Regions from separate parts of the Homo sapiens genome. Here regions 2 and 3 are each linked to region 1. The links come from fine-mapping of genetic effects on gene expression. A gene starts in region 1. Each other region holds a variant in brackets. All regions are shown on one strand. Distances are from middle to middle.

The links.
Region 2: its variant is fine-mapped to the expression of COX17 in putamen (GTEx, PIP 0.90).
Region 3: its variant is fine-mapped to the expression of COX17 in fibroblasts (GTEx, PIP 0.96).

The regions. Positions count from the first base shown.
Region 1 is chr3:119,671,671-119,681,605 of GRCh38, reverse strand. It overlaps COX17 (cytochrome c oxidase copper chaperone COX17), which reads left to right and starts at 4,200. Exons shown (of 3, transcript NM_005694.2): 1 at 4,200-4,402; 2 at 6,373-6,461. The coding sequence starts at 4,296. The coding sequence ends at 6,457. RefSeq lists an enhancer at 3,762-4,021.
Region 2 is chr3:119,625,442-119,635,376 of GRCh38, reverse strand. PLA1A (phospholipase A1 member A) reads right to left here. Exons shown (of 11, transcript NM_015900.4): 10 at 6,512-6,676; 11 at 5,566-5,993. The coding sequence ends at 5,909. Among named protein-coding and RNA genes, the nearest start is that of POPDC2, 30 kb to the left of the region's middle. The variant C/A (reference allele first, on the strand shown) is at 5,638.
Region 3 is chr3:119,652,230-119,662,164 of GRCh38, reverse strand. POPDC2 (popeye domain cAMP effector 2) reads left to right here and starts at 1,576. Exons shown (of 4, transcript NM_001369919.2): 1 at 1,576-2,232; 2 at 7,552-7,660. The coding sequence starts at 1,742. The variant A/G (reference allele first, on the strand shown) is at 4,810.

The DNA of each region.
Region 1 (9,935 bases):
GACAAAAATTACCTTACTTACTTTTGTAAGTTAGTTTATACAAAGTAGACATAGTACATTAGGCCAATGAGAATTTAAGTCTTGTAATTCTTATCTCTCAACATATGGTGTCACTCCTTCTCCACCAACAACTACTCACCCTTACTTGGTAAAGCTGGCACACCTGGGATTAGTTAGGCCTGAAAAATGGCTAAAAATACCTTTATCATAGAAGGATTTTAGAAAGTACTTTCTCAGTTGTTGCTTCTGGCATTACCAGGGCTGTCATGCATCCACAAAATTGCTGTTTGGTGCCACTGGTAGCTAATGTCCCCATTCAATAACATACAATAAACATATTCACTGTGCTATGAAAAAATCCACTACAGTCACCACTTCAAGTCTTAATGCCTGCTAATTTAGCAATTATAGTAATAGCAAAGCATTCCAAAGGTTTAAAAGAGCTCCAATTCTGGTTAAAATCAAAATTGATGAGCAAGAGCTTGATATAAAAGGTATGAATCAAACTAATTTCAGAGTTGCCTTTGTAAGACAGATGGGTGAATTTTATCTTTTATTATTTGGTATTCATCAGCCACCTACTGTCAATTTAAACTCTAATTACAGCTCTCTAAAATTATTTTTCTTGGGGGAAGTGGGCTATTAAGATTTTTGTTGGGGTAGAATGGGAAAGGATAAATTTCTTATGTTATATACTCCTACCTTTCCTTTAATACCGAAACAGGCCATCCCACGAGTATAAAAGCATTTAGACTGGGTAGGAGAAGAAAAAATGATAGAGAAAGAAGAAAAGCATAGTGATAACATAAAAATCAAAAGTTGACCTTACAGCTTACTTTATATAAATTATTATTATTATTATTTTGAGACAAAGTCTCACTCTGTTGCCTAGGCTGGAGTGCAGTGACGTGATCTCGGCTCACTGCAACCTCCGCCTCCCTGGTTCAAGGGATTCTCCTGCCTCAGCCTCCTGAGTAGTTGGGATTACCGGCGCCTGCCACCACGACTGGCTAATTTTTGTATTTTTAGTAGAAACGGGGTTTCACCATGTTGGTCAGGCTGGTCTCAAACTCCTGACCTCAAGTGATCTGCCCACCTCAGCCTCCCAAAGTGCTTGGGATTACAGGCGTGAGCCAGCACGCTCCACCTTACTTCATATAAATTAAAAGGTAGAAGGAAAAGTAACCCACATATGTGGGTTAGCTGTACCATTCTGAAGCAAGAGGATAGTTTAGTAGCTAGATATAAATGACTAAATATTTCACTTTGGAAAGGCCACTGGTTGTTTTTTTCAAAGTCAGGAGAATATTTCATCCTGAAGAAGCAGTTGTTGAAAGAGTGTTAAGGGTTACAGCACTCAGTAAGGAAACCAAAGGTTGTAAATGTCTGGAACACAGCAGGTTAAAGAAGTGTGGTGCAGAAAGGGCTGCTACTCAACTTCTTTGCCTGAGGCCTGCCTATATTAGCTAACCTGAGGAAGTCACAGGCAGTGTTATCACAACCAGTAATCTTTCTTCCCTGAAGCAAGGAGGGACAGTGGGCCAAAAAATCTTCTCAATTGCAGAAAAGCTGTTTGAGTCTTTGGGTCTGTTATCTGTCCCTACTGTTTATCTCAATTCTCTTAGCTCTCTAAACTCTGTTAGATATTTATCTTCCTTTTCTTCCTTGTTCATTTCCTATACATAAAAATGCAATAGCACAAGTGAATACAGATCAATGATTAGTTTTAAAATAAAAAAATTTTGCTTTGCATTAATTAATTAATTTTTTTTGAGACAGTCTCACTACATCACCCAAGTTGGAGTGCAGTGGCACAATCTCGGCTCACTGAAATTGCCACCCACTGGGTTCAGGTGATTCTCATGCCTCATCCCCCCAAGTAGCTGGAATTACAGGTTACCACTCCTGGCTAATTTTTGTATTTTTAGTAGAAATGGGTTTTCACCATGTTGGTTGGGCTGGTCTCAAACTTCTGACCTCAGATGATCTGCCTGCCTTAGCCTCCCAAAGTGTGGGATTACAGGTGTGAGCCACTACACCAGGCCTTGCCTTGCATTTAGATAAATTAAGTAGGATAGTAGACAGAGTACAGGGAGAAGATGATGAGACTCAGGATTGCCACTTTCAAGTTACGCAGCCTTGAACAAATGTACACCTCTGAACTTCAATTTTTCCCCAACTATAAATGTAGATAATAATTTTGACTGCCATGAAGATTAAATGATGGTTCACAACCTCGACAGCCCTACATATATGGAAGATATTGCGACTGAAGGTGACATTGTTTCAACTGAATACATATTCTAAGTGAACACATTAGTTTTTTAACTTTTAAAATTTTTAAAAATATGTAGATTTCAAATATTTTCTCCCAATTCTATCATTTATTTGTTAACTTTGTCTATAGTATTGTATGTAAAACCCCAAGCCTTTATTTTGCTGTAATGAATTTCTTCAATTTTTTTGACATGCAATTTGTACTTTTGAAATGTAACATAAGTTATTCCCCCATCCCTCAGTATTAAAATATTCTCCTCCACAATTTGCTATTAATTTCATATTTCAATCTTTCCAATCTAGGTCTTTAATGCATCTAGAGCTCTTCCTTTTAATGTAGTGTTTAATTTTCTCCAGATGGTTAGCCTATTTTCTTTTCCCCAATAATTTGTTGAACCACATTTTATTGTATATTAAGGTTACAAGTGATGTTGATATTGCTCATCCAGGAAGCACTGTTTGATTAGCAAGATTCTAAACAATGTGAGTTAGCACCTAGTTGAAAGAATTGATAATAATGGATGAGGGTGAATTTAGAACATGAGGGTAATATGTTGTATTATTAAAAATATCAATCCAGAAGGAAATAAAAATCATCCTTATTGAAAGTTTTCAGATGACAAAATGGGGATGGTCTTAGTAACCTGAAAAATACACATATAGAAATTACTCTTATACAGCACCAGTTCACAGACACGCCTGTAAATTCCCTGAGTTAAATATCTATAATATAGAAACAAACTTTGATTAGGTGATGCTGAAAGTTTAAGTACCTAAAAATACCTATCACCCTGCAGCTATTGAACAGTGCCTCCAAGTCCTGCTTTAAAAAATGATTTTATTGGCCAGGCGCGGTGGCTCATGCCTATAACCTAGCACTTTTGGAGGCTGATGTGGGCGGATCACCTGAGGTCAGAGTTCGAGACCAGCCTGGCCAGCATGGCGAAACCCCGTCTCTACTAAAAAATGCAAAAATTACTCGGGCGTGGTGGTGCACACCTGTAATCCCAGCTACTCAGGAGGCTGAGGCAGGAGAATTGCTTGAACCCAGGAGGTGGAGGTTGCAGTCAGCCAAGATCGTGCCACTTCACTCCAGCCTGGGCGACAGAGCAAGACCCTATCTCCAAAAAATAAAATAAAATAAAATAAAAAAGAGTTTATTGCCTGTTTCCAACAATACTCTGCAGGAAAAAAATCCAATGATTATATCCATTTCATTGCGAATAAGACGGGCACCAGTTTATCTATGTACCTGAGGAAATGCTATGGAAATGGTATTTTTCAATTTTATTCATCAGTATATTAACGAATATATGACTGAATAATTCATACTGAATTCAGATCAGTTGGAGGGGGGCTATAAATGCAAATTAGCTGAGGATTTAATGTGCGTAGGAGGTGTATAGGGGGTTATAGGACCTTTTAAATTCCCCCAATAGTTGTGGACTCGGTGGTTCTATGTCTTGCTATTCATTTTTAAATAGGTCAATGAAAGAGAGGAAAGGCCTGCAGTGTGTGGGGATCAGGAAGAAGGCGGATAAAAGAAAAGGGGGAAACTAGTCTGTTATTCAAGGGAACTGGCTTTCACTTATGGTTTCTCCTGTTTGGCTTGAACAAATCATTTCACCATCTTGGGCTTCCGTTTCGATATTGGGTGGGGAGGAGCGGGTGTTACGAGATCTCTCAGTTGTCTTGCTGCTTTCTTTCTTCGTGAGCCCTCCCCAAGTTGATTTAACAAATACTCTATGACCTAGAGTCCTAGAGTGTAAATACCACAGTCCAGGTGAGCGTTCAGCGGGCCTCCTTGCGCATGCGCTGAAGGGGGCACCCTCTCGTTAAGGCCCGAATTTTGCCTCTTCTGCGCACGCGCTCCTTTTAAATTCCCCACCTGTCAGAGAGAAGCAGGACTTCCTGTACTTTTTAGAGCGACTGCCGGAAGTGACTGCGGACGAATCGGCGTTTGCCGAGGCTGGCATAGATTTGGCTGTCTCCGCTCATAGCTGCTTTTGGCGCGAAAGATGCCGGGTCTGGTTGACTCAAACCCTGCCCCGCCTGAGTCTCAGGAGAAGAAGCCGCTGAAGCCCTGCTGCGCTTGCCCGGAGACCAAGAAGGCGCGCGATGCGTGGTCAGTGCGCAGCCGGAGAGGGCGCGGCCGACGAGCCCCGGGCCGCGGCCTGTGCCTTCCGGTGCCTCTGCCCTACGGCCTCTGCCCTCTGCCTTCTGCCCTCTGCCCTCTGCCTTCTGCCCTCTGCCCTCTTCCTTCCCCCCTTCCCCCACTCCTCCTCCCTGTCTGCCCCCCCCCCCCGCCCCGCCCCGCCCCGCCCCATTGCGGCGCTCTGGAGATAATTATTGGGCCTTGTAGGTTTCGTGGTCGGGTCTCTGTTGACTTATCCCGTAGCTTAGTACCGGGAAACGATGGAGAGAGAGGAGAACGGCAAGCTTCAACCACTCATTCCTTCCTACAAATGTGTGTTGAGTATCTGTTATGGGTTAAGCACTGCGTTAGGTCCGAAGATGTAGACATGGATAAAGATGCATCTTGATATAAAGGAGCTTAAAGTTAATGGAGACATAAACCAGTGACTTGTATACGACGTGGTAAGGGCTATGATAGATTTGTTAAGACCAAACAGGAAAGGTTTTCTGGTAATTTCTAAGGCTTTCTCCCAAAATTTAGAGACAGTAGGACACAGAGTGTATTCCTTACAGTTCTGAAGAGTTACGCTTCAACCCTTTTAAGACAACCAAAAGTTGAAAATCAATCAGTCTACGACGCAGGGGACAAAGTATTAAGAATAGTTCATCTAGATTGTCAATCCACAAAAGATTTGTTCTCATTTTATATAGCCTCTCTTGTGGAGCAAATCTCATTAGAGGACGTCCTCAGATAACGTGAATGTGCATCTCTTCCTCTGGCCCCTTTTGTCTTCCCAGATAGTAGATATAAGAAAGAAATCATTAGTGGTATAATGGGATAATAAGAGTGTAGGAGCTCAGTGCTTTTATTAATCCTCAGTACTTTGTAAATAATACGGGTAGGATTGAAAGACTAGTCTGAACAAATTGTTCCAGTGGTAACAGTAAGTGCTGTTGAACCTTGAATGGTATGACAGCATGATTAAGAGTCTGGGATCCACAGTCAAGGTTTGAATCTTAATCCACTAACTTGGTGACCTTGAGCCTCATGTGTCTGTAAAATGACTCTAATAAAAGAAACTCCCTCCAGTATTATTGTAAAGGTTAATGATACAAGCCATGTCAAGTGGCTAACACAGTATACATGGCAATAAATGATCAATGAATGCTAGCTATTATCTTCACAATGATCTCACTATCCCAGGCAATCTCCCATTTGCAGGCAGCTCTTGAGCTATTGAAGGATGGGTAGAGTTTCCATGGAAGGAGAACCTATTCCCTTTGTTAAATTCCCTTTGCCTCGATTGCCTCAGACCACGTGGGTTCTCCCCAAATATCCATAGTCAGGAGTCAGTTTTTCCTTGTAATTGAATTGGGCTTAACTTGATTATTTGCAAAATCACATTTTCAGGCCTTAGAAATAAAGCTGTGTAGTCCTAGTCTTTACTTTGTGAATTTTACAAGTAAAATATTCTTTGATCATCATGAGGGGGTGTTTATCTCGGTCTCCTGGCTACCAGATGTTTTTGATGTAATTAGAAGTAGATTTATTTGGTTGTGTTTGAATGTAGGGCAAAATCAGAAAGTTAATTTCTCTGTGATAATAAGCAAAAAATTGAGCTGTTCTCTGTGCCCTTCATTTAGCATAAATATTTTACTCAGTTTATTTCTTTATAGAGCAGTGTTACTCCTTGGATATTGACTAGAGGCAATATTTAATATGCGTGATTATTTCTTATCAGATTTCCCCCCCAAAATCACTTATCTGTGGAATGTCTTCATAGGCATGGGCATATCATAAGATCAAATAAAAACAAAGCTGTTTGAGGTAATAGCGTTTGTTTTAATTCCAGCTACATTCCATTATACCCGTGTTTTGTCTCACTCCCCATCACTATCATGCATACTTAATAATGTGCTTAATGCATATTTAGATAACAAGTACATTTTGTTTTATAGTATCATCGAGAAAGGAGAAGAACACTGTGGACATCTAATTGAGGCCCACAAGGAATGCATGAGAGCCCTAGGATTTAAAATATGAAATGGTAAGCTTCTTGCTTCAAAGTTGTGTATTGCTTTACAGATTTAGCAACAATTGGGCTACATTCTCTCTGAAAGGTAGTTCACCTGGTTAATCTAAAATGCTTAAGTATCAATTTGAAAAAACCATGATTTTTCAGTTCCCAATGAAGGGAGTAAATTATGTCAGTAAAGACAGTCATTTAGCGGATTGGGGAAGGGGAGAATTGAGCTTTTAAGAAAGGGTTTGACAAAAGCCTTTAGGTCCCATGGCTTTAGGAAAATTGACTGAGGGAACTAAAAGAAACATATTCTCTTTCTTGTTTCTAATAAATATTGTGGGACTTCAGTAAATGCTTTTTTTTTTTTTTTTTTGAGACAGGGTCTCACTCTGTTACCCAGGCTGGGGTGAAGTGGCCCAATCACAGCTCATTGCAGCCTCAACCTGGGAGGTTCAGGTGATCCTCCCCTCAGCCTCCTAAGTAACTGGGACTACAGGTGTGGGCCACCGTGCCTGGCTAATTTTTTGTGTTGTTTTTTAGAGATGGGGTTTCACCATCTTGCCCAGGCTGGTCTCAACCTCTTGGACTCAGGCAATCCTCCTGCCTTGGTCTCCCAAAGTGCTGGGATTAAGAGGTGTGAGCCACTATGCCTGGCCAAGAAATGCTTTTAAGTAGGGAGTGGGTATCCCACGGAAGTATTGCTTTCTGAAAAATGAAAATGGAATTGTAGCATGCTTTATTCGAATAAAACTAAAGCCTCAGGCCATTTTTTTTTTAATTAAAAAGTAAACTTTAATGTCAAAAATGCAAACTTGGGGAAGACAGAAAAGATCACACACAAGGCTGTCACTTCACACTTGGAAGGTTGCACAGCGGCCGGGCAGAGGTGCTCCTCACTTCCCAGACGTGGGGCAGCCGGGCAGTGGTGCTCTTCACTTCCCAGACAGGGCAGAAGCCGGGCCGAGGCACTCCTCACTTCCCAGACAGTGGGCAGCTGGGCAGAGACGCTCCACACTTCCCAGACGGTGGGGCGGCCAGGCAGAGGCGCTCCTCACATCCCAGACAGGGCGGCAGCTGGGCAGAGGCGCTCCTCACATCCCAGACGGGGCAGCAGCTGGGCAGAGGCGCTCCTCACTTCCCAGACGGGGCAGCAGCCGGGCAGAGGGGCACCTCACTTCCCAGATGGGGTGGTGGCCAGGCGGAGAGGCACCTCACTTCCCAGACGGGGTGGCCGGACAGAGGTACTCCTCACTTCCCAGACAGTGGGCAGCCGGGCAGTGGCACTCCTGACATCCCAGACAGGGCGGTGGGCCTCAGGCCATTTTTAAAAGAACTTGGAACTCTTAACCCATTTTAAGTGCTGAAAGGGACCTTAAGTGGTATGTGTCCAACAATTCCACAAACAAATGATACTCTTTTGTTTGGAAGCTCTTTCTTCAGTTATCAACTTAGCTCACCCCCTCACCCCACTCCCTCTTTACTCAGGTCTCTTTCAAAAGTCTCCTTATTAGAGAGGCTTTCCCTCAACACCCCATGTAAATTACATCCCTTCCCCATCACTCTATCATGGTGCTGTCCTAAGACCTTTCTGTGAAGATGGAAATGCTCTGTATCTGCACTTGCCAGTCTGGTAGCCACTAGCCATATGTGGCTGTTGAGCACTTGAATTGTGGCTGGTGAGAGTGAGGTACTGAATTTTTAGTTTGTAAAAATTTTAATAGCTACATGTGGCTAGTGGCTACTCTATTCTATACACTGTCACCTGCATGATACATATATTTTTAATTACCTGTGTTGCTTCACGGCAGCTAGAATGTAAGCTCTGAGAAAGTAGGAATTTTCTATTTCATTTACTGTCATATCCCCACTACCTATAACAGTGCCTGGCTCATAGTAGGTGCTTAATGGAGGATTGTTAAATGAATGAATAAATAAGGAAATTAAAGCTTATAGTTATGAAATGGCCCCCAAGGTGGGTTGTGCAGTATCAGAACTGGAGCCTCAGTCTCCATGCCGATTCCCTCTGCTTTTTGCCCCTACCCTAACTTCCACACCACACTACCACTTTTAACTTAATAACAGCTGAGAGAGAATGCCAAAGCCATATGCCAATATATTAGTACTAGAGAGCCTGGCTTCTTTCCCTTGCACCTCTTTCCTGCCTCTTTGGAATTTCACATATGGCCAGTCTTCCTCACTGAGCTATAAAAAAGGAGGGATAAGGAACTTGTCGCAAGCTGATAAGAAGTTACTGTGTAATGGAAAACAGTCTAGGCTGAAAGTCCTGAGGCTTTGTTTTTATTCTCCTGATGTTTAGTTTATCATGTTTTTAAGTTTAGCTACATTTAGCTTCATCAAGACATTACTCCTCTGAATTTCACTTATTATTTATAAAAAGAGAACCATAATACATTTTGTGATTCTATATATAGTATGGTATATCTACTGTTGTGTAAATGATATACTTAAGTTGCTTTTAGAATAGATGGTTATTTAAAGAAATCCCATAATGAACTATTTTATAAAATAAGTAAATTTGAAGGGGAGTGTGTTCTTAAAAAGTATGTGTACTTTATTAACTATTTTTAAAGATGCAACCTTAACATTTGTACATGGTTTCCTTGTTCATGATCTAACTCCCTCGTCAGTTGTGTAAGCTGTAGGCTTGTGCTGAACTTGCCTTGATAAAAAGGGGTGATTAAATAAAAAGAAATGCTAATTTTAGGAATATCAAAAGCTTATCTTGGACTTCATCTGAACCACAAAGGTGGTACAATTGTTATAAGTGGCATATATTCAAAAGTATCATATGATATCATAGTTTTCTTTATGTTATCAGGGCAGAGAGTGAGAATTATGTTTGTGTACTTCATTTGTGTGTAAAAGAAAATGCAAAAGCTTTAGACTTAGAAAATCTACTGCTTAACTGATTGTGTGGTCTTGGGCAGGTCCTTAACTTTCTGTACCTTGGTTTCCTCATCCGTAAAATGGAGACAATAATACATGCCCAAACTACTTCATAGAGTTGTGATGATTCAATGTAAAATAAATCATCTGTAAAAACCAGAACAGAATAGCTCATACCTTTAGAGTTGTGGATAGCAGACATTCAGTTGAGGTCTGTTAAGTATATGACTTGATTATTATTGAATCCTGGTTACAAGAAGAACAATCTGAATCCATATAGGACCCTTCTGAGAATTCAAACTGCCATGTTTTTCATTTTCAGTGTAATAATATTTTGGGAAGAGGACTGGGTGTTGGATCCTTATTGGTCCCAGGTGTCCTATTTCCCCAACCTCCATGGGGAAATGGAAGCACAGTGAAGTCAAAAAAGACTTGCTCAAGTTAGGAGTGGATAGTGGTAGAATTAGATTAGAGTTAAGATTTTTATATTCTCTAAATCACAGGCACTTTACACTTCACGCCTTGTACTTAATGAGATTTTATTCCAACATATTCATTTTTAGGATTGCACATAATCTTGATCTTCAATCT
Region 2 (9,935 bases), 46 kb after region 1:
GACAATTTTTCCACAGACCAGTACAGTGCTGGGACAGTGGTGAGGGGGATGATTTTCAGGATGAAACTGTTCCACCTCACATCATCAGGCGTTAGTTAGGTTCTCATAAGGAGAGCACAGTCTGGATCCCTTGCATGCACGGTTCACAATAGGGTTCACACTCCTGGAATCCAGTGCCACAGCTGACCTGACAGGAGATGGAGCTCAGGTTTAATGTTCACTCACCCAGGGGTTGAGGACTCCTGTACTAGAGCACTCTAGCCTTCTGACCTGAGGAATATGATTTTTAAGGCAATGGTATTCATTTAGGAATTCCAACGTCTGGTAAACGACCACTGAGGTCTCAGGATATGAGTGAGAAAATGAGTGTATTCTATACTTTAGGCTCTATTGAGGATAATGTTAAGGAAAATTCCACTCCAAATTTGTCTCTGAAATAGATCTTTGTGGTCCAAGAGTGAAGATAAGTTATGCATATGTAGCAGAATATCATTTTGATATATTCACCAATGTAAATTTTTCCAAGAATTGTCTGTGACCCTGTGACTCTATCCTTTTTGGGCAATAGGTCATGAAAGATCTGCTGCCTCAAGGAAGATCGACAGAGCAGAAGCAAAAACAAAAGGGTCAAGGCAGATTTGTGGCTTTAGCTGTTTTTAAAAATGATGTAGAATAATATCTGATCGAGAAAGACAATAAAGATTAGAGTAGCAATTATCACACTAGAGACTGGAAAACCAAAGTTGGTTCCTCAAAAAGATCAATGAAATTGCCAAATCTTTATCTAGACTTACCAAGAAAAAAAGAGAGAAGACTTAAATTACTAAAATCAGGAATAAGAGAGGAGGCATCATTACTGACCTTATAGAAATAAAAAGAATTATAAGAGAATACTGCAAACAATTGTGTACCAACAAATTAGATAAATAAAATGGACAGCTCTTAGAAAGGTACAAATTACTGAAATAGATTCAAGAGAAAAAGAAAATCTGAATATATCTATAACAAGTGAAGAGATTAAATTAGTGAAAAACTACTCGCAAAGAAAAGCCAACACTGAGATGGCTTCAGTGGTTAATTCTGCCAATAATTAAGCCTTAGAAGTGAAAATACTTCCTGGGACCATTTATTTATTCATTTTCTAACAAATATTCGAGAACCTACTGTGTGCTAGGGACTTGGAGTACAACAGCAGACAAGACAAAGTCCCTGTTGGTCAAGGGCTTGATTTGTCATGAGATTTGTAATCAAGGCACAGTTTTGTGAGCTGCTGGCAAGGGAAACTATTGTGAACTCACAGAGTCCACATAGGACTTTATGGAACGCTGGGTTTGTGTGCCAAACAACTGTTTATCTGACTGCAGTCACCTCCATCCATGCTTCCATCTCCTCTCCTCTCCCCTGTCCTTCTACTCCCACCTTTTTCTCGCTCTATTGAAGCAGCCAGCCCTGCTATTCAGAAGTGGGTACGCATGTCCTCTTTGCTGTTAACCACTCTGCAGTTGCTAGAGAATCTCACACCTGTAGGACACAGGAGTAGAAGGTCTTTCCTACGTCTATTCTCAAAGTGTGGATCATCAGACCTCGAAAGAGGCTAGGAAGTCATCTTCTCCCTTATCAACCCATCCCAGTCTCTCTCTGACATCTTGTGCTCCAGATGTTGGGGACAGCATTCCAAAATGCTGCTGGAGTTGGGCTCTCTCCTACCTGTCACCAAGCTGTGCAGTGGGAACCAAGCTCCCATAGCCTCTAGTGTAGAGGAACCTTCAACAACATTCATCTGAAAATCTAGTGATGGTTAATACAGGCATGTCCCCTGGGGTCTGAATATTTTCATTTCTTTTTTTTTTCTTTTCTTTTCTTTTTTTTTTTTTCCTTCGAGACGGAGTTTTGCTCTTGTTGCCCAGGCTGGAGTGCAATGGCACAGTCTTGTCTCACTGCAACCTCCACCTCCCAGGTTCAAGCAATTCTCCTGCCTCAGCCTCCCAAGTAGCTAGGATTACAGGTGCCCGCCACCATGCCTGGCTAATTTTTGTATTTTTAGTAGACAAGGTTTCACCATGTTGGCCAGGCTGGTCTCAAACTCCAGACCTCAGGTGATCCACCCGCCTCAGTCTCCCAAAGTACTGGGATTACAGGCGTGAGCCACCGCACCTGGCTGGGTCTGAATATTTTCTGTAAGAAACACTAGCATCCCTCTCAAAGGCCCTATGACCTTTTTTTCATCCTTCACAACTTTCTTCCTTAGCCAACTGAGGTTTGTCTGGGTTCACAGTCAGCTGCACTACACAAGCTCGGCTGGAATGCCCGGCTCTGGGAATTGACAGCTGGCTCACCTGGCTGCAAGGCCAGTTTCCTGGGCATGCGACCTGTACACCTGGGCACAGGGCTCCACTCAGGCCCCACACTTGGTTTCATGCTCTGCTGTCACCATCTTGAAATTCTCAACTTTTTAAATAAGGAGCCTGCATTTTTATTTTGCACTGAACCCTGTAAATTATGTATCCAGTCCCACAGGGTTGCATTGTGGACCTTTAGGGGCTACTTCTGTGTCATGTTTCTGAGTCTGGTTAGAGTGGTGATTAATCACCTGGCTCTGGGGCGGACAGCTGGCATTTGAATCCTGGCTCCTTTACTTACTAGACCTGTGATCTTGAAGGTTCCTCAGCCTCTTGATTTCTTTATCTATAAAGTGGGATAATAATAGCATGTATCTCATAGGCTTGCTGAGAGGATAAAATATGTTAATACATATGAAACACTCAGAATGGTGCCTGGAACATAGTAAAAAGCTGTGCAATGTTGGATGTTTTTGTTGCGTGCCTATTCCAAGGTCACATTGTTCTGTATCTTACGGCAGTGTATCTTGCACTTGGTGGTGAATCTGCCTGTTGAATTTAATTAGTTCTGTAATAGTCTCTGTTCATGAAAAGACTGCAGCAGAGTGAGCAAAGTGGGTGTGGAAGGGAGACCCAAGTTCTGCTTTTGTTCTGCCATGGAGCAGAGTTCCGTGTTAGCTCTCCCTTTCCCTGACCCCACAGACATCCCATCTACTTAAAGCCATGTTTCCCAAAGTGTGGGCCACGTGCCCCTGGACAGGATGATTTTAGGTACCACATAGACCCAGCATTAAACAACATTCCATCTCATAGACAGTTATGCATTTTTTTATATCCTTTCCATCCAGTGATTACATATAGAAAAATGTTTCCATTCAGTGTTAATAATTTTTTTTTTTTGAGACAGAGTTTTGCTCTTGTTTCCCAGGCTGGAGTGCAGTGGCTCGATCTCGGCTCACTGCAACCTCCACCCCTCCGGGTTCAAGCGATTCTCCTGCCTCAACCTCCCGAGTAGCTGGGATTACAGGCGCCTGCCACCACGCTCGGCTAATGTTTTGTATTTTTAGTAGAGACAGGGTTTCACCATGTTGGCCAGGCTTGTCTTGAACTCCAGACCACAGGTGATCTGCCTGCCTTGGCCTCCCAAAGTGCTGGACAACACCGTGCCTGGCCAGTGCTGATAAATTTTTAACATCTCTCACATACTTGCAAATTTCCCCTTTGTAGTAAAGAAAAAATTTTGCCTCCTGAACATGAAAGGAAAAAAAAAAAAAAAAGGAAAAAACAGGCCCAGGACTTAAGCCTGCATCAGACCACAGTATCTAGTTGGAATGTTAAACATTATAATGTTCTCATTGTATTTGTTTCTAGGATTAATTTATGAGTAGAGAAACTGGTTTTTCCATGTAAGGTAATAATCCAAAATTTCTGACGGAGCAAAGTAACATGTGAGAAAGTCTAACAGTGTTTAAAAATAAGAAAATATTCGCAAAGAAACCCAGGGCTATGGCCAAAAGCAGAATGGAATTTGAGGCCACTGAAAAACAGATTGAGTGAGTTTAACACCAGTTAGCATCAACATCACAAAACATGATTTCTTGTTGTTGTTGTTTTTGAGATGGGGTCTCACTGTGTCTCTTAGGCTGGAGTACAGTGGCATGATCTCAGCTCACTGCAACCTCTGCCTCCTGGGTTCAAGCAATTCTTGTGCCTCAGCCTCCTGAGTAGCTGGGATTACAGGCATGTGCCGCCACACTGACTAATTTCCAGCTAATTTTTTTTTTTTTTTTGCATGTTTAGTAGAGATGGAGTTTCATCATGTTGGCCAGGCTGGTCTTGAACTCCTGACCTCAAGTGATCCACCCAGCTTGGCCTCCCAAAGTGCTGGGATTACAAGTGTGAACCACCGCGCCCGGCCGACAATATGATTTTCATCACAGAAATGTGATACACATTTGGAAAAAAAAGCAACGAGCAGTGGGGAAAACTAAGGAAGAAGTATGTGCTAAGCAGTGTCTCCCAAGATGGCAAATGGAAGTGCAGCGTAATACAGCTCAGGGTAAGACTGTCTCTAGGGAGGAACCTGGGTGGAGTAAAGAGAAGGAAAAGGAAAGGAGGGTTTTTGGTTTGAGGCAAAATAGAAAATTGCAAGCCTACATAGCAGGGAACATGTGTATTCTTTAGACATGACTGTGATCATGCAGACAGTTAAACATCTTCGTGAGCCTCACCTGTCCTTTTGGTTGCATTTCCAAGGCCTGGACAAAGGCCGAAGCTCTCTCAGTGCCCTGGCTGACTTGGCCCAGATGAAGTAATTGCAGCCTGTTGCTTACATCATTCTCCCTGTCTTCATTGTGGAGAGTGAATCAGCAAGTCAGCAGTTTCCTTTTAAAGCTCATTTATTTATGTTTTTTAAAAAGTGAATTTAAAGAATAAAAGAATCCGAGGCAACCTGGATTTGGGAAAGTGGTGAAGGCGTGTGCCATATCTGTTAGTTCCGCACCCCCTTCCCATCCACTCTCCAACCTTCTCTGTCCTGCTGTATGCCCCGGGCCTGGTTAGGCCATGTCAATGTGTTATTTGTCCTCTGGCTTCTGTTGGGGGTCCTTAATGGGGAGCACTAGCAGGAAAATGGGAGAGGAAGAAGAGTGAAGTCAGAGAACCTGTGCTTCTGCTCCCTCCCTGCGGGGTTGCTGCTGGCTGGCTGTGTCCCTGCACTGCAGGTCTGCAGCCTTCTGGTGCTTCCCCTCCTTCTCTGGCCTCTTCACAGGTAGGGTAGTAGCAGCTTCTACTGCCAGTAGCTTCAGGGAACTGCATTATCCCTGTGGTTGCCCCACAAAAGACTATGGCAAATTGTCCTTTTCTTAAATTCTCCTCAAATAACCCAGATTGAGCGCACCATCTGTTTTTTGCTGGGCTGCGGCTGATACAAGGTTATTTACAAAGATCAAAGTTTGGGAAACACTAACCCAGAGGAAATCTACCTGTATTCCCCAAGATCTCTCTGATCCCTCAAACCTTCCAGATATCCAGAGGAGGTAATGGTAAGGGTTGGTAAATGGTGCCATCTTCCTCCCTACCCTTCATCCCCTCTCTTTTTCCAAGTACTTCTTTTAGTTGCTATTTTAATACCGATAATGCAATACTGTTTTCTCCAATCCCACAGAGTATAAATCTCAACTTTTTGTAGGTAACAGAATTCCATTCAAGTAAAACAATTAAATGATTCAGATACTCCATGAAGTTTTATTTTTAAAAAATTGTTTACCCTGTACATGTTTCTATTGAATCCTAAGTA[C/A]GAATGCCCAAGGAGATAAAGCAAGTGCAGTTAAGTATGCATGGGAAAGCTAAAATGGGTATGTACATAAGATCGGCAAAGGAAACCAAGTTCTGTAAAATGAGTTCTCCCTCCCCTCCAGGGTAGCTGATTATGAGGAAAATAAGAAAGAGCTTTGCTTTTCTCCTTAGTAGTAATGGTCTACAATAAGCTGCACACACACATCCCTCATCACACCTCTCTCTCAAAAAAAAAAAAAAAATGCAGGGAGATGTGTCCTGCCCAGGTTAAACTACACACAGGCTATCTTCAGGTCACAGGAAACAGTCACACTTGCTTGTAAGTTCACTGGTTCAGGTAAGCAGACCATCTTTTCTCTGGAAGAGAAGAGCAATAAGAGAGCAGTGGCTGGTGAGGAGACAGGGCTTGGCATTGTGTGGCTTTTGAATTCCCATGATGTCTGGTGAAAGAAATCTGCAATCACCTACAATTAAGAGCCAGTTCCTGTGGTCCAAGTGCCCAGGGGTGGTAAGGTTAATGACATAAATGCCTTTAGAGGAAGGGAAAGGGGATGTGGATTCTGGATCCACACCCATGAATGTGACCCATGACACAGTTGGAGTGGAGGCCACAGAGGAGAAAATATGCAATGAGAAAACTTTGTTCTAATAAAATCTTACATAGAAACCAAATATGCAGAACAAATACAGTGGAATTTCCCCAACCCAAGATGGTCCCACAGGAGGTTCTGGAAAACACCGGGTGTCTGTCATCTCTGCTTCTAAGATGATAATCACTATGATGAGATTGAACCTCAATAGGCAGCACATCTAATGCCAAGACTGGTCTTTGATGTGTGAGTGCATCTGGTGCAGAGGTGAATACTGGGGCTTACCTGTCATTGACAGGCAAAAGGGCAGTGCAGAACTTCCCAATAATGGTAGTCCGGTCTTTTTTCCAAACTCGGTTGGAAGACTGAAACTTGAATTTCACTTGGTTTATCTGGCATTGTGGGGTGGCATGGGCTATGATTCCTTTCCCATAGCGTTGCTGCTTAGGTCTGCAAGAAAAGGGTAAAGGGAAAGTAAATGACTGTAGCCCTTACCACCTGTACTTCCCCTTTGGCTCCGATCGGGCTCTGCTGGTGGCACTGGTTGGCTGTCATGCACCAAGGGGTTAGCTCCTTACCACAGTCCTTTGTGTCACCTTCACCAGCCCCTCTGCCCACACCTACAGCTTTGAATATGACCAAGAAAGTAGTTGTTGATTTTTTAGAATAAACAAGTGGACACTGCAACAAAATAGTAGCTCCTGGATTTTCATATCTGGAAAAACTGTTCCTCGTTCTTGGATTCCTAGCTGGAGGAGATCTTCACCTTCAGATCTAATTACCCAGAAGTAGAAACCCTCTTTTAGGACATTCCTTTTCAAAGAATTCTGTGTAAGGACTTTTCTGTTTTAGGCTAAGTATGAATGTGTGGGTGGAAACAGCAACAAGAAAACATCATGAAGCGCAGACAGAGTTGGGTGGAACCCAGGTTTGTCTTCCCAGCTGTATGGCTTTGGACAAGTTACCTAAGCTGGCAAGGTGGCTGTGGAGTCACATAGCAACTAGGTGTAAGTTCCAGCTTCCCTACATGCTGCTATGAACTTGAACCGTAGGGTTTGGTTCATACTGACTTCAGCTGAGGAGACTCAGAGTGAAAATGGCATCCAGTTCTGTCTTAACCCAGCCTCTTGGCTTTGCCCCCCCAGATTCCCTTTATGTTTAAAGATTCAGGCACCACTTTGGACTGAGACAAAGATGAGGGAGGAGTATGAAGTGATCAACCTAGCAGGGTGCTTCCAAAAGGGCTGTGGTACCCCCTAGGTACTAGGTACTGGAGACAAAAGCAAAAAATCGTGAGATTCAATGAGGAAAGTCTTCACGCTGAGTGCAAGGCACAGCCCAGCCAGCAGATCCTGAGGGTGGTGAGTGGGGGATCAAGGAGGGCGCCCAGCAGAGCTGCACCACCCAGCTAGGGAAGGAATTTGACTTGTGGGGCCCTTTGTGATCCTCCCTGGAATCCAAGTGGGACTCTGAAAAAGAGGAAAGAAGGAGGGCGCTGCGTTCCTCTCGGCGGGGGCAGGGGTGGTGTGGGGAACCACCCTTGCCAACTGGGTTTCCTGTTCCTTTCTGGCCTTCGCAGAGTGGTGATAGGGCCTCTTTGTGTTCTTTTTAGTCCAGTGTTAGTCATATCACTTGTTTTTTCCTTCTGAGGGAAGATCATGTATAATTTTGTTTAAAAACCATTCCCTCTTTTTTTAAATTCACAAGTCTTTTGAAATATTACAGAGGGAATAAATAAGATTGTTTCCTTTAAGCTTAGACTGAAGAGTTTGTAAAATACAAGGAATATGAAAAATCTTTTAAGTGAGTGGTTTGGGGAGTTGGCCCAGGTTAATTCTCCAATTAGAAGGAAATCTTAGCGTCGCATAAAGCTATAGAAATTTGGAAAAAGACCACACATAACCTCCCCGTTTTTCCCCCAATTTCTGATCTGCAAGAAGTGAATCATGTTCTGGTGCCTTCTTCAAAAGAGTTATGTGAACCTCTTCATGGAGGAGGAAGCGCTAATCTGTGGATGTTGACTGGAATTACTCGGGGAGCTTTTAAAATGTAGCTGTGGAGCCTATGCCCAGAGACCCTGATGTGATTGGTCTGGGTTGGGGGGCTTGGCGTCAGTATTTTTTAAAGCTCTCCAGGTGATTCTAACGTGCAGTCAGGGTTGTGGGTCATTTTCATGACTCCTGCCAGTGTTGCTGGACCTACCAATGGGCTAGAAGATGATGAAAACACCCTTCTAGAAGTAGCACAACCTTGAGCGGGTCTAATGAAAGGTACTTGGCTTACTGATATCCAGCCACAATCTGCAAGGCTCTGTGGGCACCTGCAGGCCTGTGCTGGAATCCTGATGGCTGTACCTAGCTGTGTGACTTTGGGTGAGCCAGAAGGAACACCAGCTAGTGGCCACGGTTTTGGGAGTGAAATGCACTCCTTCCAGCAGAAACTTGTAGTGCCTCACAGCAGAGTTCATGTCCAACATCCCAACCCGAGAAATATCTCCAAACTCACATCTGATCTCATCACTGTCCTGTTTAAAACTCCCAGTGGCTCTCCAAACTACTCTCAGGATAAAAACCTGTCCTTCAAGGCCTGGCAGGGTCTGGCTCTGACTTGCCTCTCCAGCCTCACAGCATCCCCACAACCCCAAATCTGTGCTCCAGACACACCAGAGGTGTCACATTCTCTCTAAGCCTGGCCTGGGTAGCTCCTGGAAAGCCTGCTCATCATTTCCTTGGACTCAGTCAGACTCTGTCTTCTATGCTGTCACTCTCAGGGCATTGCTCACTCATTTAAGTGTGTGTGCACTGGTCATTTCCCTGTTTGCTCTGGACTGATCTATTCCCCTGCAGGTTCCCCCACCAACAGGTTCCAGTGAGGTCTAACCCAGTGGAAGCATGCTCAGGTGGGTGGCTGCTTTGGGCAGGGGTTCCAGAGGGGCCGCACTTCCCATGGGTTCAGCTCCTGCCAAGCAGCCTTCCCTGTGGACCCAGCTTTGCCAACTCCACTCCTGCTTTGTCCCTCTAGCCTAGGGTTGTATTGGCTCCTGTTGTGATTAATCTCTGCATTGTGTCCCCATCTCTGTTTTCCAGCTCATCCAACACACTTGTAATGAGTTCACTGTGCTAAATTCCTTCTCTTGGACCTCCTCTGTTTTCCTGACCGGACTCTCACTGAGACAGTGACATTATCTGACAATCTGTCTCCCGCTGGCTTGTGAATAACTAACCGGTTGCTTTTTAAAGAAGCATGCACCATGGCTGCTGACTTCCTATCCCCTGCAGGCTGTGGCTCCCTACAGTTGGGGTTCCTTGCCCTCTCACTTCAAGCGTAGTCCCACCAGCCCCCAAGCCCAAGTCTGCCCCAACAAAGGAAGGGAATGACTACCCCCAGTTTCAGGAATCACCCAGCACCAAGCCCTCCTGGCCGCTAGTCTGGCCCTCAGCTCGCACTCCGTTGCTGACTGACCCTGTGCCTCAGATTCCATTCTGGTAACTGACCCAGAACTGCTCTCCTTTCCCAGGAGTGGGTGCTCTCCAGGCTCTGGCTAGCCCTTCCTGGGCTGGTGACTGAGGCCCTCCTCCCTACTGACATCCCTGATACCCGCACTGTCTGGATTCCAGAGTACTGTTTCCTCTCAGGGACCTGATTCCTATGTCCTCTCCATCTGTTGGGACATGCCATCCCTGCTGCCTGCTTGCCCTGCCTACTCTCA
Region 3 (9,935 bases), 19 kb after region 1:
CTTCCTTTTTTTTTTTTTTTTGACAGAATCTTGCTCTGTCACCCAGGCTAGAATGCAGTGGCACAATTTTGGCTCACCACAGCCTCTGACTCCCAGGTTCAAGAGATTCTTGTGCCTCAGCCTCCCCAGTAGCTGAGACTACAGGTGCCCGCCACCACGCCCAGCTAATTTTTATACTTTTAGTAGAGACAGGGTTTCCACCATGTTGGCCAGGCTGGTCTCGAACTCCAGCCTCACTCAGGTGATCCACCCGCCTCAGCCTCCCAAAGTGCTGCGATTATAGGCGTAAGCCACTGTGCCCAACTAACATTTCTTAGCCTAATGTTTGCATACTCCAGCTTTATCTCTTGGCAGCCCAAAGTAGATTCCTAGGTTCAACCAGAAGTTCCTTGAAAATTGTCAGACTTCATAGAAGTGTGGAGTTGGGAGTCATGGATCTAGTACTGTACTTCCACTTACTGGCAAACCCCTTGGGACAGAGTATTAAGTTTGACAGACTTGGGTTCAAATCCTGGCTCTGCCACTTAGACCATCTGTGGGAGCTTGTTACCTCTCTGAGCCTCAGTTTCTTCCAGATCTAGAAGGAGAATAATATTTATTTTGAAGGATTGTTGTCACAACTAACTTATAAGTGTATAAAATGCCTAATCTAGGTTTGGCACTTCATGGGTGTTTAATAGGTGGGAATTATAATTTGGAAGCACCGGAGTGGGTGGGATGATGATCTGGGCAATGTATTATTATTTGTTTACTATTACCAGATCCAGATATATGCAGGGGAAAGCCAGCTTAGAATTCAAAAAGCCACTTTACATAGCTACTTTTGTTAAATGGATGTCAAATAAATACATAATGATATTTGCAGTGTGACTTAATAAAGGCCTTCAGGGGGTTTTCCAGCTTTCACTGTTAGGATTTTTTCTGATAATAGTCCCATACTTTCCTACTCTGATGTGTCCTCACTCAGAAGCACTGTCTGGCTCTCCCCAAAGGGAGCTCGGGACAGTTTCCTGCCTGAGGTGTTCAGGTGAATTCTGTGCTCACTTTTCCTTTCTCTCTCCTTGTCTGTCTCTCTGACCCTGAGGTCTTATCTTGTCCTCTGGGAGGTATGTTAAGTGCTCTGCCAGGCTGCCTGTGCCTGGCCTGTTTTTTCTCACTGCCAGTACCTCTTGGATTCCAATTCCAAACATGGTATCCATCTGGGGTCACCCTTTCTTCCGGTGCCAAGAGAGAACACATTCCAAATGGAACACAAATGTGCCTCCCATGCTGGCTCTCCTCATTCTGCTTGGGAAAAACAGAGAGCAGGATGTGGCCGCATCATCCCACGCTGCTGGACTTTTCAGTCCTGTAGTGCTACTTTCCCTTGGGACTATTTAGGTTTTTCTGCTAAGAACCAAATTTGAAGACTCCCAAGAAACATGGAACCAAGGAAGCTTGCCAGAGCTCTGCAGGGAGAGCCAGAGCCTTGCTGAGACAGCGGGGGTGGTGGGGAGGAGAGAGGGGGGGAGAGGGGGAGAGAGAGAGAGAGAGAGAAAGAGGTTTTTAAATTCTCCATGAAGTGTACTATGTTCCATCATTCCTTCCCAAAGCCACCGGAAGCATTCCTTCTAGGAAAGGTGGAGTCGGTAGTGAGAAGCCGGAGGTGAGAAGACCCCTGAGCGGATGGATTCATTCATTTTCTGAATTTCCTATGTGAGGACAGTATTAGAGCCCAGTGAGGCTTTGAGAGGCCCCAAAGATGAGCGCCAACAGCAGCAGAGTGGGCCAGCTTCTCTTGCAGGGTTCAGCGTGCATTAGGTGGAAGCAGGATGTGGAAGGGGCTGTCTACCACCTAGCCAACTGCCTCTTACTCCTGGGCTTCATGGGGGGCAGTGGGGTGTATGGATGCTTCTATCTTTTTGGCTTCCTGAGTGCAGGTTACCTGTGCTGCGTGCTGTGGGGCTGGTTCAGTGCCTGTGGCCTGGACATTGTTCTTTGGAGCTTCCTGCTGGCTGTGGTCTGCCTGCTCCAGCTGGCACACCTGGTATACCGCCTGCGTGAGGACACCCTCCCTGAGGAGTTTGACCTCCTCTACAAGACGCTGTGCCTGCCCTTGCAGGTGCCCCTACAGACATACAAGGAGATTGTTCACTGCTGCGAGGAGCAGGTCTTAACTCTGGCCACTGAACAGACCTATGCTGTGGAGGGTGAGACACCCATCAACCGCCTGTCCCTGCTGCTCTCTGGCCGGTAAGCTACTCTATCCATTGCCCAGAATTTCTTTCCCCAGCCCACACTTCTCATTTCCTAGTGTGTCCCTTTCCATTTCATGTCCCTTTCCATTTCGTGTCCCCTTCCATTGAGGGAAGGATGTGACAAGTCAAACAAACCAAAATAGATTTTTCTAAGAGTGGGGTTGCTTCCTCTTTCTTGGCATTTTCCAAGAAGAAACCAGTTCATGAGGCATCTTGGTTGGCAAGAATGATTGTATGTGCACTTGCTGCTGGAAGGTGTGCAGTGCGTGTGTCTTGAGCCTGGGCCTTAAATAACCCCTCTACCATCACCACACACATATCAGTGTGTCATGCCTAAGCTGCAGCAATATCTCTGTAAGCTTTGAAAAACTAACATTTCAATAAGGTTAATCTGTTCCTTACTCAAATTCAACATTTGCTAAGCACCAACTGTATTCAGGGAACAATGCCAGAAATGGGAGGTCGGGATAGCGGGGTGGTTCTCATAACCCCTGTTCCCTGCCAAGGCATCAAGCAAACAGCCCCACTTGTGTTTGGGGTAGCTGTATGTAGCCAGGTAGGGAGAGTGAATACCCCTTGCCCACCTTTCCATTTCCAGTTGTTCTATTGAGGTTCTTGAAGACTAAGAAGTCAAGTACAGTACTGTAAATCTGAGGGCCCAACAATGGGAGAAGAGAAGTGATACACCTATCTCATCAAGGCTTTTGTGGAAGCACCGCCTCTTTTGGAGAAGGCTGACAGTCAGATATGGGCAGAAATGGTCTTAGTCAGGATCAGTGTATGCCCAGTCAACCTGGATGTGAATGTTGGGCATTGATTTCTTCTGAGAAAACATCACGGGGCTCTGTGCTACACACTTAGTAGGCAATTGTGGATTTTTTTATACTGCCCTAGTGGCTCTTGAGCCCCACAACCCCCACTCCACCAGCTTTCTTGAGACCAGGAGAATGTGATAGAAAAGGTAAGATGGCAATTAGAAGGCTCCAATTCCAAGAAAAAAAAAAAAAAAAAGCAAATCCAGATAATACTGCCAACCACACAATGGAGAAAAAAGTTTGACAATGATGCTAATGGTACTACAACTACCACTAATAGTAATAATACGTGTTTGTGTATTCATTTATAGAACCTGAAGTATCATGTATATATGTTTTGATTTTGTTTGAACTCAGAGGTCCTGGATAGAGTGAGCTAGGAGGGGAGACATTTTGTGAGGGTACATTTCATTTCATTTATTGGTGAACTGAAAGTGTAAACCAATGCGATTATTTGTAAACAGATATAGATGTAAATACAAATACATATAACTATTGTGAAAATGTTTGCACCTATAGTTCCATGCTTAAAGACAATTTAGGGAACTTGCTCATTCATGAGACCCATGATGTTATAGCTCGTCTGTTCAAAGGAGGAAATTGAGAGCAGCAGAAGTGCTCCCTCCAGTGTAGGGTGCCCATTTGCTGGAAGCATGTATGGTTACTGTATAGTTCAGTTAGGATAGATTTACTGTGAACTTGTATAAGATCACTTCCCAGTGAAGGGGAGAGGGGGGCTTGCCCTTGGTGTAGCTTTTCCTGGTATACTTAGCATCAAAAGGCTGAGTCAGAAATTAGACAATTTTGATTTTTTTTTTTCCTGCCTTTCAAGGTTTGGAGTAAGAGTTTTGTTATCTTTCAGTGTCACCCTGTCTCAGCTTTGCTGAGCTGGACATAGAGGAAAAGGCTTCTAGTCTATGACTGGGCTCTAGTTTTAAAGGAGAATCACTGAACCTTGGGCTGGTTACAGTAAGGGACCAAACATCTCAAAGCAGCAGACAAGAACTTTGTGCCAGGAAGTGGGGACTCTTGTGCAGACTTCCACATCTCACATGCACACTGTTCTCTAGAGTCCTTCACTCAAACCTCAGAAGTCTTTTTGTTTTGTTTTAATAAAGGAAACCAATCTCTTTCAAAACTCAGAGAGGGAAAGTGACTTTCTCAAAGTCTATCACCCTGTTAAGCAGCGCTTAACTTAGACGTTTCTCTCATATAAAATTCAAAACACAAACTTCCATATATACAACCCCCTGAGCAGGCAACTAACTATCTAAGCTATTCATTTAGGAGAAGATCATCCATCTTCCAGTAGATCAAGAAGGAAGAAGAAACAGATGATAAAGGGCACAGCATTCCGATTTAAATGGCTTCAGCGAGCCACGAAGATCATTAGACATTATCTACACTCTACGGTTGTCACTCTTTGGTGGCTTGCCTGGGTGGCCGAAATCCTCGCCTAAGGAGCTGACATATGCTGCAGCAGCGCCATTCTCTTCTGCTGTCTTCCTTTGCTATGGAAGCTTTTCAGTGAGGTTTTGATCCCCTTTTATGGTGACACAAGTGAGTTTGTTCCTTGGTTTCCTTTGTTCATTTATTCATCCTTACTTTCTTGCTTCCTTCTTTCCTTCTTTTCCCCCTTCCATACATATTTATTCAGAGTCTTGAATAAAGCTCCTGTCTTCCAGCTTTAGGTTGTCAGATAATAGGTGCAATTGTTTTTTTAATTGGTGCTGGTCTTTGGTAATTTGTATACACGC[A/G]TGTATACCTAGGCATTCATTAAGAGCAAGGCTCAGGAGTGCTGATATCCCATTGGCCAGGACTTATCACTTGCCTATGCCTAGCAGCCAGGGAAGTAGAGAAATGTTGATTTTTTTCTCTGCAGTCATGTGTCCAGTTAAAATCTAGCACCATTAAGGAAGAGAAGAAAGCAGATACTGGAGAACAGACTGCCACACTGGATTTCCCAGGTCTTTGTTCATTCTCATCTTTATCTGCTTCTCAATACCCTTTGCATCCCTCAAAATTCAGCTCAAATGTCATCTCCTTCGAGAGGTCTGCTGCCCAAAGAGAACCAATCTTTCTCTCTCCTCTGTTACTGTTCCACAATAGCACCTATCACATTGACTTGCAGCCAGTTATTTATGTGCCTGTGACTTCCACTAAATTGTGAAATCCTCAAAGACAAAGACCAGATTGTGCCCATCTCTGCATTCCCAGATCTCCAGAAACATGAGAGATGCTCCAGAAATATTTGTTTAGCCAATAAACCTCCAGAAATAATGGAAGGATATCTCCCCCAAATGAACAAGGTGTACCTTAGAGATCTTTTTCATCTTCCCCCTTTGCCTAATAGAGGCACCCCTATTGCCTGATATAACTCACTTTAGAAGAGAGGTTAAAGATGAAACTCTGAGTTTTCTGGGCAGGGGTCGGGTTGGGGGAAGGATAAAGCCCATACTGGATTCTAATCTTCTTCCAGATGTGGCCTCACATCTGAAATACACTCCCTGTCCTCAGGCATCATCAATGACATGCCATCAGTTCTAACAAGTTCTCATGGAATGCAGTCTTTTTACCCTGCAGGGGCAGAGCACTAGGCTAGGTACAGCCACAAGGGTACAAAGGCACCAAGCAGCAATAGTAAGGCTCCTAACCCCTTAAGTTGTGAAACCAAGCCTGTGGTCATGGGCAAGTCAAGAGCAGTTAATGACTTAAGACTTAAGACTTAAGAATATTCATAAAATTAAAGCAAATAATTCGGATTTCTGGCTGCAGCCACAGTAACCCACTCTAGCCAACAGAAGGGGGAAAAAAGGTCTTTATTTAAAAAAATACAAGGATTTCTTATGAAACTCAAGGAAAGACATGCACCTAAGCCTCAGGTAGTGCTAGAAACAAGAACATGTCCTACTAGGACATTTTATGTGATTTCAAGTTTATTTTCTCTATAGCCAATTGGGACCCATGCTTTTCAAAGTCTGAGTTACGTGATAAAAAAAAATTTTTTTTAGTTCCTTCAGGGAGGAGTGTGTTAGTTTTGTTAATAATGCCTGATAATTGTCCCCATCCAAGGCATGATTTACACGCAATTCCATTTCCAAATTCCCAGGGAAGGAGTTTGATTGGCTCAGCTTGAGTCAGGTGTTCACTCTAGGACCATCAGCTGGATAGGGTGCATGGGATCTCATTGTCTAAAGAAACAAGCTGTTATTGTCACCTACGGTTAGAGAGGTCCGGGAAAGGGTCATGCTAGGAGAGTCCACTACCATCTACCCAAAGCTGTAGTAATAGGGTGGCAACATGGTGTTGTGCTAAGAACATAGAATTTTAGTTCCGCCACTTGATCGCTATGTAGCCTTAAGCTCGCCACTCAACCCTTCTGAGCACCAGTTTCCTTAGCTATAAAATACAGAAAAGAATAATCTACCTTGTGGTGTTGTGAACATTATATAAGAGAACACTGGTAAAGTGTCTAGCAGAGTCTGGCATATGGTAGACTTGCCACTTCCTTCAAAGTCTACAAAGTGGTTAAATGTAAGCATGAATCTTCATGTAGCTAATGGGAAGGGAGAAAGGAGAATCTGTGGAGCAGCGGATCCAACAGAACTTTCTGTGATGACAGAAACGTTCTAGATCTATGTTGTACAACATGGTAGTCACAGGCCATATGTGGCTATTGAACACCCATATTGTAATTAGGTAAGGAACTGAATTTTTAATTTTATTTAATTTTAATTAATGTAAATGTAAACTTAAATAGGCAGCAGCATTCTTTTCTCTTTTTTTGAGACAGAATCTTGCTCTTTTGCCCAGGCTGGAGTGCAGTGGTGTGATCTCGGCTCACTGCAACCTCCACCCCCGAGTTCAAGTGATTCTCTTGCCTCAGCCTCCCAAGTAGCTGGGATTACAGGCACCCGCCACCATACCTGGCTAATTTTTGTATTTTTAGTAGAGATGGGGGTTTCACTCTCTTGGCCAGGCTGGTCTCGAACTCCTGACCTTAGGTGATCCACCTGCCTCAGCCTCCCAAAGTGCTGGGATTACAGGTGTGAGCCACTGCGCCGGGCCAGCAGCAGAGTTCTTAAGCAGTAGTTTCTATCTTGGCTACACATTAGAATCACTGGGGAGATGTAAATACTAATAATATCCAGTTCCTACCTAGAGAGATTCTTGTTTAATTGCTCTGGGATAAGGCCCAAGCCTAGGTGCTTTTTTTTAAAAGCTTCCCTGGGACTTCTACTCTGCAGCCTGAAATTGAGAACCACCAGTAAGGAGAAGGAGGAGGAAAAATGAGGGTTCTGGAAGTCTCAATGGGTTCCTTTTCTGAACTACTTGCATGCAGTAATTAGGCTGGCTAGTCTAGCTTTGGGTTTTACCATGCTTTAGGCAAAGTATTTCTACAGGAAGATTCATGTTAATCAGCGACACCTAACTTCAGCATAGGTGGCTTGGAGAGCCATTTTCCTTTTCCCACATGATCTCTTCTCTTCCCTTGCCAGGGTTCGTGTGAGCCAGGATGGGCAGTTTCTGCACTACATCTTTCCATACCAGTTCATGGACTCTCCTGAGTGGGAATCACTACAGCCTTCTGAGGAGGGGGTGTTCCAGGTAACAGGGAGCCTGGTGGCAGCACCGCCTCACCCCATCCCACTGTAGCCCAGCAATATCCGTGCCTCCATGTTTCCCCTCTTACATCTGTCCTTCGCACCCCTGCCAGTGTGAAGCTACAGGCGGGGGCACTCTTCCTCTGAAAAGAGTTCCTGGGCTCCTAGCCATAGGTGAGGTAGGGTAGGAAGATGCTGGCCCCTGGGTAGACCATGTTACTTGTATGCTTAAACTCTTCTGGAAGACCCTAGTGCCACAACATAAAAACCCACACTTGTTATAGGGTAACTTAAACCTTTTAGTGCTCTCTAGTCGCATTTCCAGCTCTCCCTCCTTCATATTTTTTGCTCATACTAGCCATGCTGAACCACTAGTACTTCCCTAAACACACCACATTGTTTTGCAGCTCTATGCCTTGGCCCCTACTCTCCCCTCTGAAATGCATTTCCCCTTCTAGATGAGACCACGGAACCTCACTTCCACTGTGAAGCCTGCTTCCACCCCACAGCCTCACCAGCTTCCACCCCACAGCCTAGCACTCCTGTGTGCCTGTTCTAGTCCTTTTACTTATGCTAACTGGTGCACATCTTGCTGTCTGTTCTAATAATCTGGTCTCCTTTCTGTCTTCTGCACAGTGAACTCTGAAGTACAAATCTAGGCTTTTCCCTCTCTGTTCCCAGACTCTAAAGGAAAGTACCTGGAGCACAGCAGCTGTTCAGTAAAGAATTGCTTGCCGGGCGCGGTGGCTCACGCCTGTAATCCCAGCACTTTGGGAGGCTGAGGTGGGTGGATCCTGAGGTCAGGAGATCGAGACCATCCTGGCTAACACGATGAAATCCCGTCTCTACTAAAAATACAAAAAATTAGCCGGGCATGGTGGCGGGCACCTGTAGTCCCAACTACTTGGGAGGCTGAGGCAGGAGAATGGCGTGAACCCGGGAGGCGGAGCTTGCAGTGAGCCGAGATTGCGCCACTGCACTCCAGCCTGGGCGACAGAGTGAGACTCCGTCTCAAAAAAAAAAAAAAAAGAATTGCTGAACTGGTTTGCCACTGGGCAGCTGGTGTCCCAGAGGACTCCATGGGGCATTCACATACATGCTCCAATGCAGGTTCCTGGCTGCCTGGCCCCTACTCTTCTTATCTCTGCCAATCCCTCAGGCTTTGGTCACTTTCTTTGTAGCTCTCACTTATTGAATGGCTAGCATGTGGCAGGCACTACGTATCATATTGCCTCATTGATTCTCATAACAACTCTATGGGTTGAATATGATTATTACTCCATTTAACAACTGAGGAAACTAAGGCCCAAAAACATCAAGTAATTTGCCCAGGGTCTTCAGCTAGAAAGTGACAAAGCCAAGTTGCCTGGATCTACCATTTCTGTTCTTTATTAAAATGGGAAGGTCACCAGAAGAGTAGAGTTTACACACACACATACACACACACACATGCACACGCATGCACACACGCGCACACACACTCACTCACCCTTTTAAGGACTCCCCTGCCTGGATAGTTTGCTGGACCTGGAAACACTGGATTCCATGTGTCTCCTACTACTTTTATCAGGGAGTCCCTCAAGCCAACATATGAGCCAACCCCGGAACAGACACACACCGGGCAGTGCTACCTGGCAGGGCCTGCTTCTGCCCCCACCCTGACACTTGGCTCTGTGATGATGGAGCCTGAGAGGCAGTCCTGATCCCACTGCCAGGGTCACCAGCCACAGATCCACTTCCATCATGTTCCTACCCTGACCTCCGTCCACACACCCTCCCTAACTAGTCCAGAAACCTTCTTCAGGAACTCTCTCAGGCACATGAGAACCTCCAGGAGGGCTCAGTCAGGACCTGAGCCAGCTGGACCAGGCCTCTTTCTGACACTGACACGGAGGAACAGGTGGTGGGTAAGCCGGGTGTCCTCCCCTAAGTTACGCTCAAGAGGAAGGGCTGTAACCTCACATGGCCTCTCAGCCTGGAATGTAGGTATGGTCATGTTCCTCCCATTTATATTTTTAGCGTGTACCTCCTTTGGGAGTAATGAGAGCCACACATTTGCTATTGGCTGTGTAAAGTCCCATTTCCTCTTTGCAAATGTCAAGTGTTATCTTAAGTTAGAGTTCATCCTGTCCTTGCCTTTTGCAATTACATAGTCTTTGTTGACTGAGAGCAATCCACAGTGACAGCCTAAATTATAATTCACATTGTACCTAATATAAATCAATCAGCATTCCAGCACACCTCTCGACAATTCAATTAAGTCAGAATTCATTGTGTGT